2 separate regions of the Homo sapiens genome follow, and region 2 is linked to region 1. Evidence: fine-mapped expression QTL. A gene starts in region 1. The other region holds a variant in brackets. All regions are shown on one strand. Distances are from middle to middle.

What was found. PIP is the estimated chance that this variant, and not a neighbour inherited with it, causes the effect.
Region 2: its variant is fine-mapped to the expression of ZBTB38 in whole blood (TOPMed, PIP above 0.99).

What each region holds. Positions count from the first base shown.
Region 1 is chr3:141,367,279-141,370,186 of GRCh38, forward strand. It overlaps ZBTB38 (zinc finger and BTB domain containing 38), which reads left to right and starts at 1,226. Exons shown (of 6, transcript NM_001376113.1): 1 at 1,226-1,526; 2 at 2,594-2,668. RefSeq lists enhancers at 25-800, 628-1,827, 893-1,122, 1,577-2,352.
Region 2 is chr3:141,401,490-141,404,397 of GRCh38, forward strand. It overlaps ZBTB38 (zinc finger and BTB domain containing 38), which reads left to right. Exons shown (of 6, transcript NM_001376113.1): 5 at 2,438-2,542. Among named protein-coding and RNA genes, the nearest start is that of ZBTB38, 34 kb to the left of the region's middle. RefSeq lists silencers at 577-886, 967-1,256. The variant A/C (reference allele first, on the strand shown) is at 1,483.

The sequences.
Region 1 (2,908 bases):
TGGCTCTCGGATTTTGCATCTACCACATGCCACAGGCTTGCGTCCATCCGACCTCCCTAGTTTCTCATCCCCACTTGAACCTGATGACTGATTCGCCCTCCTGGCTACGCTGAGTAAGCCACCCACTTGCCAAACCTCAGACCTGGTGTTGACGCAGTAAGAAGGCATGAGGCCCATGTTGCCAGAACATTCCTAATTGTTTCATTGTTTCCTTGTAGGATGTGGTTTCAAGTCCCATCTTTGTCTCTTTTCTCCTGGCCAGGTTGCCCTTGGTCAATATTCCTTCATTCACTCCAGCCACTCAGCACCGTGATTAAGAAAACAGGATGTGAGATTAGATGATCCAGGCTCTGCCATGAACTAACTAGCTGTGAGGCTTTAGAGAAGTGTCTTAACCTCTCTGAGCATCCATTTCTTTCTCTATAGCATTAGGAATATTAATAGTACCTACCTCACAGCTTTTTTGTTGTGATAATACCAATAAATGAAATAATCTTCATAAAGCACAGAGGCTTGAATGTTCACTCTAAGTATTTAATATGTGTCCTCTACTATTTTATTTTACAATTATCATTCCTTAATTCATCATATAATTACCAAGCCTCATGCCAGGCACTGAGATATAAATATCCCCTTTAAAGAGTGGTCATGTCTTAAATCCAGGAAGAGCTAGTTCATGTTGGCACCCAGGGTAGGGAGCGAAGCCCAGGGCCACAGCACAGAGGCAGAGGAGAATAGACACTGACCACCAGGAGCTGCCCGGGGATGGTGACAAAAGTGCCTTCCACCTTTCCGCATCTCTTTCAATACCACTGCAACTCCTTGAGTAAGGTGGGCACCACACAGAAGAAGGGGGATGGCAGAGGGGCAGTGAGAGGTCCCCAGGGAAACACCCTCTTCTTCTTCCCTGCTTCTCTGACAGAGCACGGCCATGCCTCTGCCATGCAGGAGGGTGATGTCCTTTGGGGAGGCCTTGTTGAATCTGTCTGGGGCTGTTCCGGAAGTAGGAAGGGCGGCTGGGGGTGGGGAGACGGCAGGAATGTTCTCCTGGCCTGCTGGTCTGTGCCGGCGAGTGTGCTGAGAGGAGGGCCTCTGGACATCAAAGGTTCCTTTTGTCCCCTTCCGAGTGGCAGGGCAGCCCGGCCCGGGCTGCTGGCGATGACTCAGGCCTGGCCCTGACGTCACCCACGCCCGGCCACTGGCCTCCCTCTGAAGCCAGGAAACTAGTTGGGGAGTGGCACTCGCAGCTGCAGCAAATCTCAAAATAAAGAGGCAACGGCCTTTCTCTTCCTCTCCATCTCCCTATAGCACACCTTTTATTTCTTTTCTTCTTTTTTTTAAGCCTCACGAAAGATTTTACTTGTAGATCAACTTTCAAAATGTAGGAAGTCAGAATGGGTGACATCATCAGAAAAATATGTGGAGCTGATCACAAGAAGTGAAGAACCCAGAGCACGAAAGCGGTTGTGACTCCTGGGCCCAGGGAGTTGACAGCGTCTGGGTTTCAGAGGAGCCAGCGCCTCCGAGTAAGTGAAGGCCCACTTTTGGCCCCCCCTCACTCAGCGCCCTTCACCGTAGGGCGCCATCTTGTTCCCTGACGCCTACAGCTTGCCAAGCCCCAGCCCAGAGTTGGGAGTAGGGACTGCATTTGGGAGACCCTCTAAATACGGCCCCAAAGGGATCTGATATCTCTCTCCACAGGATCAGAAAAGAATGCAAAAAAAAAAAAAAAAAACAATACTAAGACGGAAACCCTGGGGAGAACAGCCCAACTGATGCCTTTCCCTGTCAACCCTCTTGTTTTGCCTCCTCTTCCTCCCCTCACCTGAGTATTCCGTTTCAGGCTGTCAGAATGTTTGTTCAGAGTTCTGGATTGTTTGCTTCCTAGATCTTATACTGAGCGATCAGACATAAAAATAAACCCTGTTCTAGGCAAATACGTGTCCTGTGCCATCAAATGGTATTTTCACACTTAACCTGGTAAAATATGACAGCCCTGGTAAAAAGATGTACATAATTGTGCTGCCTTTACTGAGCACGTTTCTGATTGTTCTGTGTATGAACCTCCATTATCTTATCGCCCTGTTTACAGAGGACTTATTTTCATTCCTACTTGTGCCATCGTATCTGGGATGATATTAAGCACAAAGACACAATGTGTCTGTTTTAACTTTGTCTAAAAACTCATAGTTCTTTACAAAGCCTATAATTTCACGACCTCTGGAAGTTCCTACCCAAGAAAGTTAAGTTCCCAAGAGAAAAGTTTTGACACATACATGAGAACAGCACGTAGGCATAGAAATCATACCCTGATTTTCCCGGCTTCTAAGTCATCCCCTGAGTCAGCATCTAGTCTTCGTATAGCTGACGTACCAGGGGAGATCTGTTCTTCAGAAATTCTATGTTAAAATGACTGGGAGCGGGGAGGCGTAAGTCTCATTTTAAAGGCAGTAAGGAAGCTTGTCATTTACTGGAAAACAGTGGCATATTCCTTTGTAAATGGACAACTCCCTTTGGAAATTAACTATCACACACTAAAATATCTGTTTTATAGGCCTTATGTTTTACTTTTTGTTTTACTTTAATATATTAGGTTGTCTTGAAGTGAGGCTCTGCTGTAGTCCTGTTCTTCTGGCTCTAAGATCTGAATGTTGTGACCACTAATTTGGTAAGTGTCATTTGTCCCCAACAGCTACTTAAATTTAAGTCTCCCAATTCTCCTTTTTTAGTTTGTGGTAAGATTCAAAGAAAAGGGGAAAGGGCACAGAGATTTCTGTACACAATGATTACAGCTATATTAAAAAGGATATTAGGATAGGCTAATTGTTATAATAGAACCCCAAATCTATAATGGCTCAAACACAATAGTTTATTTCTTGCTCATGTAACAGTACAGGTCAGTGGGGCA
Region 2 (2,908 bases), 34 kb after region 1:
ATCAAGTGATCACATTCTTAAAACATGGTCAGGAACTGGGATGCAGAATTGCAAGTACTGTAGATTCCTGGCTGAAAACGTAAAGAATTGACTTTTTAATCCTTTTAAGCTGTGGCCTTGAATTTTTTTTTTTTTTAAGAAAATTTAAGAATAAGACTCTACTGTCAAAACACAGGGAACATGGACGATTTAAAAAAAAAAACACCTGTCCATTATTCGTGCATTAGCTCCACATGGCCAGCTTGTGGCAGGCCCTCTCTGAATACTTTTTCAATGAGCAGCCCCTGGATCTTGGAAGAAAGATGCCAGCGGCCAGGGCCCTTCATTTAAAGAAGAGGACTGGGTCTTTTGCGTGAAATAGTTTCTGTGCCACGTTGGGAAAAATCTATCTAGGCCTCTCTTGACGGCCATGGAAAAAACACAGGTGACTCCTTATTCCTGAGAATTTGATGCAATTGAAACAGCGACTTTCTGCGAATCCAGTGTGCATAGTCTCGAACAGGAGCCCACGGACCCTTCTGCGGCCCGAGGCCTTGTTCTGACAGTCACCAGGCTCTGTGGCCCAGAGTCCTAACTGCGTTGTCCTTCGGCAGGTTCTGAATTGTGTCCTCCCTGAGGAGGCTGAGGCCGCTGCCTCCTTGGTGGGGGGCCCCGGCTGGCCACTGGGTCGGGCATGGGGCCTTACGGGGCCCTCACGGGTCCCGCCGCCGCCCTCCTGAGGCCTGGTCCTTGGCGCCGCAGTTACCCCAGCCCCGGGCCCGCGGGGCTGCGGGTCGGGCCGACCTCCTCCCGGACGGGCTGCGTCCTCTGCCCCGCGCCGGGGGCGGGCCGGGCCGGCAGAGCCGAGCCGCCGGCGTCCATTTTCTGGGCGGTGCTGTGCAGCGCTGCGGCCGGACTCACGGGTCCGGAAGCACCATGGACCCCCGGGGAAACGCGCCGGCGGCGAAGGAGCCGAGCCCCGTAAGTGCCCCTCGCAGGGTCTTCGCGGGGCCGGGGGCGGGGCGGGGCGAGGCGCGGCCTGCGGGCGCGGCGCCCGTGGCGCCGCCAGCCCGATCGCTCCTCGCTTCTGGAGGGAGCCGGGAAGCCGGGCTGGGGAAACCCTCGCAAGGGTTGAGCTCTGCAAACGCAGCAGAACCGAGCTGCCCGCGGGGAGGAAGCGCCCGCAGGTGCCCGGACTCCGGGGCCCGCGCCCGGAGCGGGGCGGGGCGGGGTGGGTTCGGCTGGAGAGTGCGGGCAGGTTGCGCCGCATCCCGTGGCCCAACTGCGCGGCTGTGCTAGAGGGCGGGGGCCGAGGAGGAATGCGCTCCCGGGGCTGGGGACGTGGTGGGCTCGAGTCCAGCGGGCTCGGGCACTGCTTTGACAGTCACACCTCCCGTCTCCTGGATTGGGAATCGGACCCTAGTCCTGACCCTATGGGAACTTGATGATTTCCTTGATGCAACACCAAGCCCCTGGAATTGAAAGGGACGTGCAAAGGCAGGG[A/C]CCTGCCCCCAGGGGTTTGCAGTCTCAGCCGCCTACTTCTGCAGTAGTAAGGTCTGCTCTGTTGGTACAACATACAACACAACCGCCCGCCGTTAGCCACTTTTTTTATAGGGTACATCATAAATCACCTGAGATTTTAGTCTGTCCGCGGTTCCACTTTATAACTCCTGCACTGCGGTAGGTAAGTGCCTAATTCCATTCTGGACGTTGGCCCTAATTGAGTATCCCTTCTAAGGATCGATTATAGGTGATATGTGTTATGGTGCCTTATACATATTTTAAAGGTTAAAGACTTTTCTTCTGTGAAGCTCAACTACTTGGTCAGATTCTCATGGTTACAAAATGTGGAAGAGTTTTGTCCTGGTTTCAGAGAAGCAGCTAGTGAGTCGCTATATCTAAGTGTAGCGTTTTTCAAGAGTGGGGGACCCATTCTAAGATTGTGGGATCAGTTTAGCGGGTTGCTACTGGAAATCTTCTTAAAGATATAGAATATATAGTACAATACAGAGAAGAATAGAAAAAATAACGTGCATTGCACATAGTAAGGGTAAGCATTGTTTTATGAGACTTTTGGTTTTCGGTTTATATAATGTAAATTTTTAAAACCGTGGGTCACTGTCTGAAATGTTTTTAAAACCCTGACTTACTGGTTAATAGCCCAGGCCTTGGAATCAATTGAATCTGGATTTGAGTCCTAATTGTCACATACACCAGCTGTGTGACCTTGAACAGGTTCCGTGGTCCATTAGAGTCTCCGTTTCTATAGCTGTAAAATGGGGGAATGTTCCCTACATCTGAAGGTTGTTATGAAGACAACACGAAACCACATATGTCAACCACTTTGTGGGTGTTTGACTTATGTGTTCAATATGTGCTAATTGCAGTTATTATTGTTGCTAAAAGATGAAATCCTAGCAGCTAGTCATGGGACACTGCACTTTTTTTTTCTTTTTAGATCTTGATGTGGAAGAAATGGAGGACTCAGAACCAAGGATTTCCAAGTGATTTCTTCCAAAGCACAGGAATCTCACTCTGTTAAAGCTGGTCTGTTCTAACTGAGGTAACTAAAGTCGCGTCTCTCCTTAGTCTACATGAGATAGGAAATGGTCTTTCTGAGGGACTCCCAAAGGGTATATGATTCAAGACAGCAATCCACCAAGTTTTGGGGTTACAAAGTGACCATGACACTCAAGTGATATGTTACTGGGAGACCGGATGTGTGAAGCCCCCGTGATGAAGGGGAACTAGGAGATCAAGGCTTTAGGACAGCTGGTTTCTTGTTCCAGTTCTGTCAGCAATTGTCGTGGGGTCTTTTACATGTCTCTTCACAGATCTCTAGTTTCCCTAGGCTGGAAGGATGCACTGACATTGCTGAGGCCCGGAGAGTTTAAATGACTCTTCAGGGTTACCCAGTGGGTTGGGGTCA